Regions from separate parts of the Homo sapiens genome. Here region 1 is linked to region 2. The links come from fine-mapping of genetic effects on gene expression. Tissue or cell type: whole blood. Region 2 holds a variant in brackets; the other region holds the start of a gene. All regions are shown on one strand. Distances are between the middles of the regions.

The links.
Region 1: DYNC2I1 starts here. The variant in region 2 is fine-mapped to the expression of DYNC2I1 in whole blood (TOPMed, PIP 0.94).

What each region holds. Positions count from the first base shown.
Region 1 is chr7:158,851,600-158,860,063 of GRCh38, forward strand. DYNC2I1 (dynein 2 intermediate chain 1) reads left to right here and starts at 4,959. Exons shown (of 25, transcript NM_018051.5): 1 at 4,959-5,151. The coding sequence starts at 5,137. It overlaps LOC124901796 (a long non-coding RNA gene), which reads right to left and starts at 4,923. Exons shown (of 2, transcript XR_007060627.1): 1 at 4,782-4,923; 2 at 3,539-3,797. RefSeq lists a silencer at 5,015-5,484 and an enhancer at 5,835-6,376.
Region 2 is chr7:158,881,203-158,889,202 of GRCh38, forward strand. It overlaps DYNC2I1 (dynein 2 intermediate chain 1), which reads left to right. Exons shown (of 25, transcript NM_018051.5): 6 at 3,362-3,417; 7 at 5,819-5,873. Among named protein-coding and RNA genes, the nearest start is that of DYNC2I1, 29 kb to the left of the region's middle. The variant A/G (reference allele first, on the strand shown) is at 4,592.

The DNA of each region.
Region 1 (8,464 bases), 29 kb before region 2:
CTTGCTGCACTTTATGCAAATCATCAGGCCAACTATAATAAGACTAAAACGTATTTTCCACACAAGTTGATCTTATTATAATGTCTCTTTATTAGAAAAGGAGGGCTAGAGAGAAACTGAGTCAAAGGAAAAGTGTAACACTTGTTACTGATGACTGTCCTGACTTCTGTTTTTGAGTGCAGATTGAATCATGAATCATCTCTGGGCTGCAAGAATCCTCTAAAGAGCACCAGGCTACAATTTTGATTCATATTTATAGTTGGTGCCCCAGCAGAATAGGTTCTTTCTTCTGTTCTGACACACAAATACTATTCTGATTATCAAATTATTAATGTTATTTATCTCTTCTTGTTTTACTTCCAAGGAAACCAGAATCACGGAATTCTAAAAAGATGTGGCATTGGCACTCGGGCATTCCACTGTGCCTGATCTGTTTTCATGGCCAGTGCCCTGCTAACCCTACACAGGCACCCTCCCTCTAGGGCCAGGGACCATAGCAGAAGAGCTGGGCGCCTGAGATTCTAAGGGCTGTTTTTTTTTTTCTTAGATGGAGTTTTGCTCTTGTTGTCTGGAGTGCAGTGGTGTGATTTTGGCTCACTGCAACCTCTGCCTCCTGGTTTCAAGCGATTCTCCTGCCTCAGCCTCCTGAGTAGCTGGGATTGCAGGTGCCTGCCACCATGCCTGGCTAATGTTTGTATTTTTGGTAGAGACGGGGTTTTACCATGTTGGCCAGGCTAGTCTTGAATTCCTGACCCTGTGATCCGCCCGCCTTGGCCTCTCAAAGTGTTGGGATTACAGGCATGAGCCACCGCGCCCGGCCTGTAAGCGCTGGTTTTGAGGGAGAGAATTAGTTCAGACCGGCTGGGCATGGTGGCTCACGCCTGTAATCCTAGCACTTTGGGAGGCCAAGGTGGGCAGATCACAAGGTCAGGAGTTCGAGACCAGCCTGGCCAACATGGTGAAACCCCGTGTCTACCAAAAATACAAAAATTAGCCAGGCGTGGTGGGAGGTGCCTGCAGTCCCAGCCAGTCAGGAGGCTGAGGCAGGAGAATTGCTTGAACCCTGGAGGCGGAGGTTGCAGTGAGCTGAGATCGCGCCATTGCATTCTAGCCTGGGGGACAAGAGCGAGACTTCGTCTCAAAAAAATAAAAATAAAAAATTTTATTAGCCATTTTAGGACAAATTACTAAAGGACAATAAAAAGCATTGCAGCACAACAAAAGTCTCTAAAAATCCTTAGCTTAAAAGGTTTTAACAATGCTTATGTTCTGTATAGCTAATTGCTATAAGTCTGTAACTAAAACCAAGATTACAGTAGCTCAGTCAGGTTTGTAACCTCGCCCTTGGCTTTTTGTTTGTTGGCTTTTTACTTAAATTTTTAAGGGTTAATGAATGCTTGTCTGTGTCCATTCCCATTTGGCCTAGAACATTTTAATTGGCTACAAGTCTTTTGACTCTAAGTCTCTTGGCCATAGGGTGTCCCGCTGAGAGACAGGACAGATCCAGGGCAGGCAGCCATGTCACCCTGGCAATGCTATGGAACAAAACAAAAGCTTGGTGGCCACTGGTGTTGCCTCTGACAAATGTTGGCCACAAGGGGAGGATGTAAACCAAAAATAAAATTGTAAGACCCCCAACCATCTGAATGGACCACTCCTCCTTGGCCAAGGGCATTCCAAACTTAACCTGAAGAAGTAGTTCAGGACATGATGGGAAGAGGGAGATGGACATGCCTCATGATACCCTCCTCCCTTTTGGAATCACGGATGGAACAGGCTTCTTTAAGTCTGGTAAGAAGCATTTACAGTCGATTCTCTCTGAAGCCTGCTACCTGGAGGCCTCATCTGCATGGGGTGACCAAGGTTTTCTTGGTCATTATCAGTGTGAAGTTGAACAGTCTTTCGTTTTAGACCTTAGTTTTTATGAGCTGGACTTGTAACCGCCCAACAGGTTCTCCTTGCCGGCTGCTCAGACAGAGATGATTTATCTAGATAGGAAATTGCAATAGAGAAAGAATTTAATTCACGCAGAGCCGGCTGTATGGGAGACCAGAGGTTTTTTTTTTTTTTTTTAGATGGAGTTTTGCTCTTGTTGCCCAGGCTGGAGTGCAGTGGCGCGATCTTGGCTCACTGCAACCTCCCACTCCTGGGTTCAAGAGAGTCTCCTGCCTCAGCCCCCAAGTAGCTGGGATTACAGGCATGTACCACCACACCCAGCTAATTTTGTATTTTTAGTAGAGACGGGCTTTCTCCATGTTGGTCAGGCTGGTCTCAAACTCCCGACCTCAGGTGATCTGCCTGCCTCAGCCTCCCAAAGTGCTGGGATTACAGGCATGAGCCACCATGCCCAGTGGAGTTTTATTATTGCTCAAATCAGTGTCCCCCAAAATTTGAGGATTGGAGTTTGAAGGATAATTTAGTGGGTGGGGGGGCGTTGAGAAGTGGGGAGTGCTGATTGGTAGGATTGGAGATGAAATCAGGGAATCCAAGCTGTCTTCTTGCGCTGAGTCAGTTCCTAAGTGGGGGTCACAAGACCAGATGAGCCAGTTTATCCATCTGGGTTGCACCAGCCGACCCATTGAGTGAAGGGACTGAAAAATGTCTCAAGCACCAATCTTAGGTTTTACAATAGTGATATTATCCCTAGGAGTAATTGAGGAGGTTTAGAATCTTGTGGCCTTTAGCTGCATGACTCCTAAACCATAATTTCTAATCTCATGGCTAATTTGTTAGTCCTCCAAAGGCCATCTAGTCCCCAGCAAGAAGAGGGTTTGCATCATTCTCAGCAAACTATCACAAGAACAGAAAACCAAACACCGCATGTTCTCACTCATAAGTGGGAGTTGAACAATGAGAACACATGGACACAGGGAGAGGAACATCACACGTGGGGGTCTGTCGGGGGGGGCTGGGGGATAGCATTAGGAGAAATACCTAATGTAGATGACGGGTTGATGGGTGTCGCAAACCACCGTGGCATGTGTATACCTATGTAACAAACCTGCACGTTCTGCACATGTACCCCAGAACTTAAAGTATAATAATAATAAAAAAAGAGAAGGGGGTTTGTTTTGGGAAAGGGCTGTTATCTTTCTTTCAAAGTTAAACTATTCTACGACCAGGAATGGACAAGGACAGCTTGGAGGTTAGAAGCAAGATGGAGTCAGGTTAGATCTCTTTCACTGTCATAATTTTCTCAGTTCTAATTCTTGCAGAGGTAGTTTCAGACTTAAGTTGCAGATCTAAAGTTACAATTGGCGTGTCTTTGTTTAAGTGAGGACACACATCTTGAAAGGTCTCCAGGCTGGCAAAACATTTACACCTGGGAGACTGGTGGGGGCCAAGGTGCCCGGCCCTGCCTTCACGGGGGCCTGGCTGGCAGGAGCCTTGCAGCCTGCAAAGCAACAGCTGTGCATTTGGAAGAGGGTGTTGGGCGACTCGGCTTGCAACCACCCAAGGGGTTCACCTTGCCCGCTGCCTAGACAGAGCCTATCGAGATGGGGGAATTGCAATAGAGAAAGAGTAATTTACACAGAGCTGGCTGTGCAGGAGACTAGAGTTTTATTATTACTCAAATCCATCTCCTTGAGCATTGAAGCATTCAGGGATCAGAGTTTTCAAGGATAACTTGGGTGGGGGGAAGCCAGTGAGCCAGGAGTGCTGATTGGTCAGAGATGAAATCATAGGGAGTCAAAGCGGTCTTCTTGCCCTTATCAGTTCCTGGGTGAGGGGCCACAAGATCTGATGAGCCAGTTTATTGATCTGGGTGGTGCCAGCTGATCCATCAAGTGCAGGTTCTGCAAAATATCTCAAGCACTGATCTTAGGAGCAGTTTAGGGAGGGTCAGAATATTGTAGCCTCCAGCTGCATATTAGAAACTACTCCTAAAACGTAATTTCTAATCTTGTGGCTAACATCAGTCCTACAAAGGCAATCAAGTCCCCAGGCAAGAAGGCCTGCTTTGGGAAAGGGCTGTTACCGTCTGTGTTTAAATTATAAAATATAAACTAAGTTTCTCCCAAAGTTAGTTCAGCCTACTGCCAGGAAGGAACAAGCACAGCTTGGAGGTCAGAAGCAAGATGCTGTGGGTTAAGTTACACCTCTTTTACTGCCTCAGTCATAATTTTGAAAAGGCGGTTTCAGGCTTTCAGCCCTAACTTTCCCTTTGGCTGAAGGAGTTCGGAGGTCCTGAGAGTTTTTGATTTTCCCTTACGTGTTGTATAAAAACAGTCTCTCAACGTTGATTCCTGCCTACCTTACTGCTTGTTTTTATCAAAAGACGACATATGGGAATATAATTTGTTAAGTGCAAAGCCTTATTCAAATGTAAAGCTCTTTTCTTTTTTTTTTTTTTTTTTTTGAGACAGAGTCTCGCTCTGTCGCCCAGGTTGGAGTGCAGTGGCGTGATCTCCGCTCACTGCAAGCTCCGTCTCCCAGGTTCACGCCATCCTTCTGCCTCAGCCTCCCGAGTAGCTGGGACTACAGGCGCCTGCTACTGCGCCCAGCTATTTTTTTTTTTTGTATTTTTAGTAGAGACGGGGTTTCACCGTGTTAGCCAGGATGGTCTCGATCTCCTGACCTCATGATCCACCCGCCTCCGCCTCCCAAAGTGCTGGGATTACAGGGGTGAGCCACCGCGCTCGGCCTCAAACGTAAAGCTCTTTTCAATATCTGCTCTCCCTTTCTATCTTCCCCGACTGTCAGTCCGGTCCCGTGGGAACCCGGGGCGGGTTGGGGCGAGTCAAGAGCCCCTGCACCCCAAGTCAGGGTACTGCACCTACCCCTTGGGGAGACCAACGACCGCTCGGTCCTCTGCTGCTCCTGCCTGGCGGTTGCTAGGAGCCGGGGAAGCGCAGGCGCATTGGGAGGGGCCGCGGGCACGCCGAGCAGCGACCACTCGGCCTTCCCCTGCTCCTGCCTGCCAGGTGCTAAAAATGCCGGGGATGCGCAGGCGCACTGGGAGAGGCCGCAGGGCACGCTGGGCAGTGCTTCTGGGCCCTCTGCTGCTCCTGCTTGTCGGTTGCTAGGCGCTGGGACGCGCCTCCCGAAGGGTGCGGGGCACAGGTGGCCTCTTCGGGGTGGACCGCGCCTGGCCGGGGCCGAGGACACCGCGGCCGCCCGGGCCTGCGGGAAGCGATGGAGCCCGGGAAGGTCGGTGCGGCGCTGGGTCTGGGCGAGGGGTGGTCGAGCTTCGCGGACTCCTTCGGGCGCCGCTAGCAGCGCCGCCGCCGCCCTCCCTTTGCGCAGCGGTTCTCTCGGCCGGGCCGGGGCTTCCCGGAGGAGCCGCGGTGCCTCCGAGGCAGGAAGGGAAACGGAGGCGCGGCTGGCCGTCGGCGCGAGGGATGGCAGGACGCCGGGCTCCCGGCGGTCGGGAGAGGCGGTCTGTGCAGCCTCAGGCCTGGGGTCGCCGCCGCGGCCCGTCTCCTCGCGCCCGGCCTGGAGGCGGCCTCGGCCCCTGCTGCGGGGCCGGGGTGGCTGAGGAGACATATTTAAAAGTTTATTAAATTTTAGCTGACTTAAGTTTAAATATGACTTGTCACAGTTTAAGAGGTTGAGAGAGTGCAGCCTGGGTGCTTGAGTTTGAATTCAGGATTTTGTATTTACTTGTATGACCTTGGCAAACTCACTTAACATGTCTTGTTTCCTAATTCATTCAATGGGCACAATAATAATAGCAACATTATAGGGTGTTTAAGAAGGTTAAGTGAGATATTATGTGTAAAAGTGCATAGACCAGTGCCTGCTTTCATTAACACTCAATAAATGTTAGATATTACTGTATTATTCTTATCTATTGATTCCCCACTGAAAGATGAGGAATTTAATTTGCATACATTTTCTTCTACCTTCACTCCTATTATTTTTTCCCCATCACTTACCTTTATGTGTTGAATAATACTCCTTAATTTGTATTTTATGTTATATAAACCTTAGGTTTTTGTTTTTTTTTTTTTTTTGAGATGGAGTCTCACTCTGTCACCAGGCTGGAATGCAATGGCACGAACTTGGCTTACTGCAACCTCCGACTCCAGGGTTCAAGAGATTCTCCTGCCTCAGTCTCCCGAGTAGGTGGGATTACAGATGTCCGCCACCAAGCCCAGCTGATTTTTGTATTTTTAGTAGAGATGAGGTTTCACCGTGTTGGCCAGGATGGTCTTGATCTCCTGACTTCGTGAGCCACTGCACCCGGCCTTTTTTTTTTTTTTTTTTTAAAGATAATTCCCCTTGTCGCCCAGGCTGGAGTACAGTGGCACGATCTCTACTCACCGCAACCTCCAACTCCTGGGTTCCAGCGATTCTCCTGCCTCAGCCTCCCGAGTAGCTGGGATTACAGGCAGGTGCCACTATGCCTGGCTAATTTTTGTATTTTTAGTAGGGATGGGGTTTCTCCATGTTGGTCAGGCTGGTCTCGAACTCCTGACCTCCGGTGATCCGCCCGCCTTGGCCTCCCAAAGTGCTGGGATTACAGGCGTGAGCCACCGCGCTAGGCCAACCTTAGATAGTATTTTTTAACTTTCCCCTAGTTAAGATTAAGAAGCTACTGCCCTGCACTCCCCATTTCTCCCTAAACCCACTAATTTCCTGACCCTGTCATCTTCTATGCTATTCTCTTTACATTTCTTTAAGTTACTCTGTAACTTACATTGTCCGTGATTTGTTTATAGGTTGATTTTAAAAATGAAAACCAATAAACACTATAACATCATGGTTATATACGTTTTCATTGCAGAACCAAATAGTCAGATTGGACCAATAGATACAATGGAGTCCTGTATTCTAAGCTCACTCTACTCAGGGAACAATGTTTCTGGTGTCAGGGTCAAAGGGGTCATCTTTTGTTACATTCAGTTAATGTACCACAATGAAGTTTGCTTATCATTTGGACCATGTCTTTCATAAATGGCCCTATTTGCCCTGTTTTTTTAGTTTTGGCAAAAAAGAACATAAGCTGTTTTAAATTTTTAAACCTTATGATGTCTTCTAGCTTATTAGTGTCATATTACCTGTTTAATGAAATTCTCTTAAATTCTTCCCAGAGCTCACTGACTTTATGTTCTCATCAGGACAAATTGTTTTCTAGACATGCACAGAGCTATGATCTGGGAATTCTTTCTCATTGTGCTTCTGGGTTAGGCCTACTGTTTCTTGGATCAAGTGTCTCCCTCTTTTTTGAAATCTCCATGCTTTTTCCAGTGGAGTATCCCCTCCCCCCACTTTCCTCTCCCCTCCCCCCTCCCCTTTCCCCTCCCTTCCTCTCCCCTCCCCTTTCCCCTGCCCTCCCCTTTCCCCTCCCTTCTCCTCCTCTCCCCTCCCCTCTCCCCTCCCCCCTCCCCTTTCCTTTCCTCCCCTCCCCTCCCCTTTCCTCCCCTCCCCTTTCCTCCCCTCCCCCCCTTTCCTTTCCTCTCCTTTCCTTTCTTCAGAGTCTTGCTCTTTCACCCAAGTTGGAGTGCAGTGACACGCTCACAGCTCACTGCAGCCTAAACCTCCCAGGCTCAAGCAACGCTCTTGCCTTGGCTTCCCAAAGTGCTGGGACTACAGGTGCGAGCTACCATGCCTGGCCTGTCGCATACCTTTTTAGACAAGAGTATATGTGGGAAGAAAACTGTATGCCCTAAGAATATCCTTATTATACTGATAGATTGTTTAAGAGTTTGGCTTAGCATAGAATTCTAGGAGCAAAATAATTTCCCAGAACTTTGAAGATGGTTTACTTTTGTCTTCTAGCAGTGTGTTTGGCTGATGAGATATCTTTGTGAGTAACATTTTCTTTCTCTCCAGAAGATTTAGGATCTTTATCTGTGATGTTTTGAATATGGATGTAGTTTGTTATAGATCTTTTTTCATTCGTTATTTTTGACATTTGACTGTCCCTTGGGGTTTTATTCTGATACATATTTAATACATAAAATTCATTTTTTTTGAGACAGAGTCTCGCTCTGTCGCCCAGGCTGGAGTGCAATGGCGTGATCTCAGCTCACTGCAACCGCCACCTCCCAGGTTAAAGCGGTCCTCCTGTCTCAGGCTCCTGAGTAGCTGGGATTACAGATGTGTGTCATCACGCCCAGCTAATTTTTGTATTTTTAGCAGAGACGGGATTTCATCGTGTTGTCCAGGCTGGTCTTGATCCGCCCACCTCGGCCTCCCAAAGTGCTGGGATTATAGGCATGAGCCACTGTGCCAGGCCAGTAAATAAACATTTTTAAAGTAGCAAAAGCAACAGATCTCAGAGCTGGATATTTCCTGGCAACTAATGAATTCCTGTAACAGGTTCTCAATTGCAAGTCGGTCTTTAACTTTTTAGGAAGTTAACCCATGGGTCATTAGAATCTAATTATGTAACTATTAGGCTGTGATATAGAATTAATTAGTATAGTCTATTTCATAAGGTAAGGGGAAGGATAAAGTTTTCATGAGATTACTGGAATAAAATTGTATTGGATTATTTTGGTATTAGAGTTTTTTT
Region 2 (8,000 bases):
CCTCGCCTTTGCCCTGGGGCCTTTCCTCACTGAGACCCCACTGTCTTCCGCAGCCCACGCCCTCTGTTTGCATCAGGGCGTTGGCCGTGTTTCTTAGCAGGTTTGAGGCAGTGCCGGTTCTGCTACCCGCGTCTACGGTGTGGAAAGCCTGGACTCCCCTCTAGTCAGCCACACGGAAGGTTAGTTGAGGCGGTCACTGAGAAGCAGCTCCTTGAGGACAGATACTCATTTTTTTTGTTTTTATTTATTTTTATTTATTTATTTATTTTGAGACAGAGTCTCGCTCTGTCGCCCAGGCTGGAGTGCAGTGGTGCGATCTCGGCTCACTGCAACCTTGGCCTCCCAGGTTCACGCCATTCTCCTGCCTCAGCCTCCCGAGTAGCTGGGACTACAGGCATGTGCCACCACTCCCGGCTAATTTTTTGTATATTTAGTAGAGACGGGGTTTCACCGTGTTAGCCAGGATGGTCTCAATCTCCTGACCTCATGATCCGCCCGCCTTGGCCTCCCAAAGTGCTGGGATTACAGGCATGAGCTACCGCGCCCGGCCATTTTTTTTGTTTCTAAATCTCTTTCCCTAGATCAAAACTTCATCATTTTCTCCCAACGTTGTGTTACGAACATTTTCAAACATACAGCAAAGTCGACGTAATTTTCCAAAGAACACTCTTGTACCCATAACTTAGACTCCGCTACTTGCCTTTTATTGAACTTGGCTATTCTCCATTCCCTAGATCATGTTTAATTACTGGAAGTGACTTAGGTTACATGTGCTTAGTTCCACCCAGAAATGCCTTTCTGGACATAGATTTGGCTTTTATTAAAGGTGAATGTGAAAAATGGTCGATGAAGAACATTATCCTGTATCTTTGTAAAACCACTGCCTTCAAATTAGTCCCAGAAGAAAGATTATTCAGACGACTGACATTTTCTTTTTAAGACAAGCTGTTCCTATCTGAGTGGCTTGTATGCTGGGCACTGTTCTAGGTGCTGAGGATACAGCTGTGAACAAAACAAAAATTACTGTTCTTATGGTGCTTATGTTGTGTTGGAGAAGCCATAGGATAAAGAACTACCAAAAAAAAACCACCTAAATCTCAGATAGGTGTGGTGGCTTACACCTGGAGTCCTAGCTACTCAGGAGGCTGAGGTTGGAGGATCTGTTGAGCCCAGGAGTTCAAGACCAGCCTGAGAAATATAGTGAGACCCCATCTCTACCAAAAAAAAAAATTTAGCCAGGCATGGTGGCACACAGCTGTAGTCCCAGCTACTACAGAAGCTGAGGTGGGAGGATCACTTGAGCCGAGGAGGTCAAGCCTGCAGTGAGCTGTGATCATATCACTGCAGTCCAACCTGCGTGGTACAGTAAGACCTTGTCTTAAAAAAGAGACCAGGCATGGTGGCTCACACCTATAATCCTAGCACTTTGGGAGGCCGAGACAGGTGGATCACTTGAGGTCAGGAGTTCGAGACCAGCCTGGCTAACATAGTGAAACCCTGTCTCTACTAAAAAATACACAAAAATTAGCCAAGTATGGTGGCACGTGCCTGTAATCCCAGCTACTTGGGAGGCTGAGGCAGGAGAATTGCTTGAACCTGGGAGGAAGAGGTTACGGTGAACTGAGATCGTGCCACTGCACTCCAGACTGGAGGACAGAGTGAGCCTTTGTCTCAAAAAAAAAAAAAAAAGGAAAAGAAATGAACAGATACACGATACAATATCAGGAATGGGGATCGAGCATTGTATAATTAAAGATTTTTTCCTTTGCGTTGACTTTCAGAAATTCAAAACTTTTGAGTACTTTTGATACTCAAAATTAGTATCAATTTTAGATATTCTTCAACTGAGTACTCTGAACCTACTGCTTGATGTAATTATCCTGTGGTTACCGTAAAGTGCAAGGTGCACTGCTAATAATTACGCCAGGACAACAGATAGAAACTGGGACTGTTCCCGGGGATGGATGTTCTCTGTGATTCTCTCTCACTTTCTCTATATGATATTTTTTCTTCTTCTTTTTTTTTTTTTTTTTGAGATTGAGTCTCACTGTATCGCCCAGGCCAGAGAGCAGTGGTGTGATCTTGGCTCACTGCAGCCTCCGCCTCCTGGGTTCAAGTGATTCTCCTGCCTCAGCCTCCCGAGTGGCTGGGATTACAGGTGTGCATCTGGCTTATTATTATTTTTTTTTTTTTTGTATTTTTAGTAGAGTTTCGCCATGTTGGCCAGGCTGGCCTCGAGCTCCTGACCTCAGGTGATCCTCCTGCCTTGGCCTACCAAGGCCAAGTGTTACAGGTGTGAGTCATGGTGCCTGGCCTCTATATGATTTTTGATCCATGATTTTAATTAGAATGATATAACTTTTATTGTAAGCTTCCTCCAGTTATCAATTTGAGATAGAGTATGAGTAAGTACAATAAATATACAAAATGTTCTAAGCTTCCTGACCAGTGACTTCTTTTTTTTTTTTTTTTTTTTTTTGAGACGGAGTCTTGCTCTGTTGCCCAGGCTGGAGTGCATTGGCGCAATCTCGGCTCACTGCAAGCTCCGCCTCCCGGGTTCACGCCATTCTCCTGCCTCAGCCTCCCGAGTAGCTGGGACTACAGGCGCCCGCCACCACACCCGGCTAATTTTTTTGTATTTTTAGTAGAGACGGAGTTTCACCGTGTTAGCCAGGATGGTCTCGATCTCCTGACCTCGTGATCCGCCCGCCTCGGCCTCCCAAAGTGCTGGGATTACAAGCGTGAGCCACCGCGCCCGGCCCAGTGACTTCTTTAATAGAAGAATCCAGTGGCCTCATCTCGTTGTTATCCTATCTGCCACACCTTTATCCTTTTAAAAAACAATTTTTTTTTTTTTTTTGAGATGGAGTCTCGCTCTGTCGCCCAGGCTGGAGTGCAGTGGCGCAATCTCTGCTCATTGCAAGCTCCGCCTCCCGGGTTCACGCCATTCTCCTGCCTCAGCCTCCCGAGTAGCTGGGACTACAGGCGCCCGCCACCACGCCCGGCTAATTTTTGTATTTTTAGTAGAGACGGGGTTTCTCCGTGTTGGTCAGGCTCGTCTATAACTCCCGACCTCAGGTGATGCGCCCGCCTTGGCCTCCCAAAGTGCTGGGATCACAGGCGTGAGCCACCGTGCCCAGCATAATCACCCTTTTATATATACTTTTATCCATTTTCTTTACATTTAATTATCTAATTTACTAAAAATAACTGGTAAAAATAGTTATTTTAAAAGGTACTTGTGATGTACATGCTGTTGTTAAATTTTGAATCTGTGCTTGTTTTGTGGGGTTTACTAATTATGCTTACTTCATTCCGATATGCTAATAAATGGTTATGGGATTATATTTTTGTTTGATAGAATGGTGAACACAGAAATCGAGGTGCAAGCTCAAAAAGAGATGGGACCAGCAGCCAGTAAGGATTGCATGCCCTGTGGTCGACCTTTACGTGTGCCGCTCTCATGGAATGCTTCAGGGAATTTTCTTATTGGCTCCGATGACGGCCAGTCCATGGCAATCAGTTATAGATATACTTCATTTTCTCTAGATTTTACCCCTTAGCCCCTCCAAATGGGTTGGTAGGTTTTTGGAATACTGGAGGAGCTTGGAAACTTAATATATTATTAGCTTTCTTTGGCCTTTTAAATTAATTATATTTTAATTTTTTCATTTTAATATTATTGTTTGTATTTATTGCCTCAGGATCTACTTTTGTCCTTTTTAACATTTGCTCATGCAAAATTAGAAAATTGGTACTCACTTTGGGGAGAATAATTCACTTGGGAGTCACTTAATGTGCAAGAGGGAGTCCTCCCTGCCTGAAGCTAAAGCAAATCCGCAGGTGGGCAGTTTTGCACCTTTACGCACCTGAGCAAACCATTCTGGTTCACAGCCACTAAAAACAGGACGTGCCGGCGAGTCCCCCTCTGCCCACTGTTTATCACTTGTGAACACACGGGATAACATTCCGCCCTCAGGCCTTGGCAGAGACCCCCAGAGCTGGGGGTGGGGGTCAGCCTTGGTTGGAATTTCCTGTCTACCTCTTAGTTGCAGTGTTGGGTGGCTTTTCGCTAAAGCAGTGATGATAATTCCTGTCTCGTGTGGGTTTTGCAATACATAATTGGAGTTTATGTATAAACTCTTTTTTTTTTTTTTGAGACAGAGTCTCACTTTGTTGCCGAGCCTGGAGTGCAGTGGCGCAATCTCGGCTCACTGCAACCTCCGCCTCCCAGGTTCAAGCTATTCTTCTGCCTCAGCCTCCCAAGTAGCTGGAACTACAGGCACATACCACCACACCCAGCTAATTTTTGTATTTTTGGTAGAGATGGAGTTTCACCATGTTGGCCAGGCTGGTCTTGAACTCCTGGCCTCAAGTCATCCACCTGCCTTGGCCTCCCAAAGTGCTGGGATTACAGGCGTGAGCCACTGTGCCTGGCCTAAACTCTCATATGTAAGCCCTAGACTTTAATTTGTTCTTTCTGACAATCATATTTTGTAATCGTTTTTCAAAGATTAGAAAACCCAGGTTAAATATCTTACCCAAATTTTTACAAGTTTGGGCAAAGCTAACACTTAAACCTAGGGTGTCA[A/G]TTCCTGGATTTTATACTGCATGTCCACTAGAAGGCACAATAAGACTTTTTTTGCTCAATTCTGTATTTTTGTTAAACCGCATGGTATATTGATATGAATGAAAGTTTAAAAATTGAGAATCAGTTTGATATTTTGCAAATCTTTATTTTAGGTCCTAACATGAAATGTGATTAAAATATAAAACATTTCAAGATAAATCTTTCTTTTAGAAAGATTTTATATTTTTATTTTATATTACATATTATATAACATATTTATATTTTATATATATCTTTTATATTTAATATAAAATAGTATTTCAGATAGACCAATAAAATTATAGAAAATTTCTACAACTCTTTTTATTTTTTGTTTTGTGATGGAGTCTTGCTCTGTCGCCAGGCTGAAGTGCAGTGGCATGATCTCGGCCCACTGTAACCTCTACCTCCCTGGTTCAAGCAAATTCCCCTGCCTCAGCCTCCTGAGTAGCTGGGATTACAGGCACACGCCACCACGCCTGGCTAATTTTTTTGTATTTTTAGTAGAGATGGGGTTTCTCCATGTTGGCCAGACTGGTCTCGAACTCCTGACCTCAGGCAGTCTGCCCACCTTGGCCTCCCAAAGTGCTGGGATTACAGGTGTGAGCCACTGCGCCCGGCCGAGAACTTGTAAAGGATGTAGATTTGCACTCACAAGTTTGTTAAAACACATAATTTCTTCTCTGGAAGATATTTTCTGTCTTGAATTATTGCTAAAATAGTAAGAATGCTAGGAAGACTTTAACATTTATTGCTCTAATAAAACATGCTTTGCTAACCTGAAACAGTTTTTTAAAAAAATTATTTTTTGAGAAAGGGTCTTTCTCTGTCGCCCAGGCTGTAGTGCAGTGGCACAATCATGGCTCACTGCAGCTTCAAACTCCTGGGCTCAAGCAAACCTCCTGCCTCAGCCTCCCAAGTAGCTGAGACTACAGGCATGTGCCACCATGCCAGGCTAATTTTTTATTTTTGTAGAGATGGGGTCTACTCTGTTGCCCAGGCTGGTCCCGAACTCCTGGCCTCAAGTGGTCCTCCTGCCTCAATCTCCCAAATAGCTGGGATTACAGGTGCAAGTCATCGCTCCTGGTTGTAGTAGTTCTTAATCATATCAAAATATTGTTAAGAGCTTTCACTGATATGGAAAATGTTTTATTTTTTAAAAGCTCTCATTTAAAGTAAGTTTTGATTTTGATTATGTTTGCTTTCCAGGCATGCTGAGAATTTAGTAAGGAATCATGGAAAAGATAAAGATTCAAGACGGAAGGTAAGGCAGTCTCCACTGAGAATACATTGATTTTATGGTACATTGAGATTAACCATAATCTTACTTTGGGCTTCCCCTTGAAACCAGAGGCCGAGACAGGGCTCATTTGCAGATGGTTTATTCGAGTGGTGATCCCAGAAGGCACACTGGAGACTCACTTTAGGTTAGAAGATGCAAATTGATTGAAAGTAAAAAGGTGGACAAAGAGAATCTATCAGACAGCAGCTATGAGAGGGCTGGATTGGCTACACTAGTATCAGATAAAACAGATTTTGAGACAGAAAGTGTTACTAGAGAGAGACAATTCAGAATGAGCAAATAATTGGTTCAGCAGAAGGCGATAAAACAATTGTAAATGGATATTTACCTAACAAGAGGGTCCCAAAACACAAGCAGCAAAAACTGACAGAATTGAAGGGAGAAAGAGACAATTAATAATAATAGTAACTTTAGCACCCCACTTTCAGTAACAGGTAGGACAATATTTTATGGTAACAAATTAGGTAATTTAGATGAAAGGACAAATTCCTAGAGACTATCAGTTACTAAAACTGCTGGAAGCAGTAGCCTGAATAGACCTATAGTGAGTCAAGACATTGCGTTTGTGTTACAGATCTCCCCACAAAGTCGCTCAGGCTCTGATGGCTTCTCTGGCAAATTCTACCAAGCACATGTTATTAATAGACACTTGTTACTAACACACAATCATCATCCCTCTCCTTGCATAATTGTTTCCATGTGTTAAGCTACCTTGTGACATGTATTTATGCACAGGGAGAATTGTACCCTGTGCTGAGCTTGTCAATTAGTACATCAGCGTTTCTCCACAGTCTTCATTATCTTCACTGTCTCCATTAGGATCATAAGAGTAGGCTTTGTAATGATTACTTAGTGACTCTAAAATAGCACACTGTGGAGTTAGGGTTATTATCAAACCATTGTCCTTTTTTTTTTTTTTTTTTTTTTTTGAGACAGGTCTCACTCTGTTGCCCAGGCTGGAGTGCAGTGGCACGATCTCGGCTCACTGCAACCTCCGCCTCCCGGGTTCAAGCGATTCTCCTGCCTCAGCCTCCTGAGTAGCTGGGACTATAGGCATGCGCCACCATGCCCGGCTAATTTTTGTATTTATAGTAGAGATGGGGTTTCACCATATTGGCCAGTCTGGTCTGGAACTCCTGACCACATGATCTGCCGACCTCGGCCTCCCAAAGTGCTGGGATTACAGGCGTGAGCCACCGCACCCAGCCTTTTTGTTTTGTTATTACAGATAATGTGGCAAGCATATTTTGGATTCTATGAATTATTTCTGGAGAATAATTTTTTCTTCTTTGATCGTTATCTGAAACCCATGATTCTGAGGTAATCATATTTAACAATTTTGTGCCATACATACATATATATATATATATACGTTGAGATGGAGTCTCACTCTGTTGCCCAGGCTGGAGTGCAGTGGCGTGATCTCAGCTCACCTCAACCTCTGCCTCCTGGGTTCAAGCGATTCGTGCCTCAGCCTCCTGAATAGCTGGGATCACAGGCATGCGCCACCACACCCAGCTAATTTTTGTATTTTTAGTAGAGACAGGGTTTCACCATGTTGGCCAGGCTGATCTTGAACTCCTGACCTTAGGTGATCCACCTGCTTTGGCCTCCCAAAGTGCTGGGATTACAGGCGTGAGCCACTGCGCTTGGCCTTTGTGCAGTATTTTTATGAATTGCTTTATTCTATGTCCGTACACAAACATAATTTTACATAAATTAGGTCATACAGCACCTGTTGTTTTGACGTGGATGTTTTATTTCTTTAATTTTGGTGGTGGTGGTTGGATTGCTTATTATCTGGCTATAGCCACACATTTACCACAGAAAAAAATACCTACAAATATTTCTTCTCATATAATCTTTTATAATCATATATTGGTATGTATATTTAGGAGTTTGGAAGCCAGTTTTAAACATTTACACACACACACACACACACACACACACACCCCTCCTGTTTTTCTTTTTTTTTTTTTTTTTTGACATGGGGTCTCGCTTTGTCACCCAGGCTGGAGCGCAGTGGCGCGATCTTGGCTCACTGCAAGCTCTGCCTCCCGGGTTCACGCCATTCTCCTGCCTCAGCCT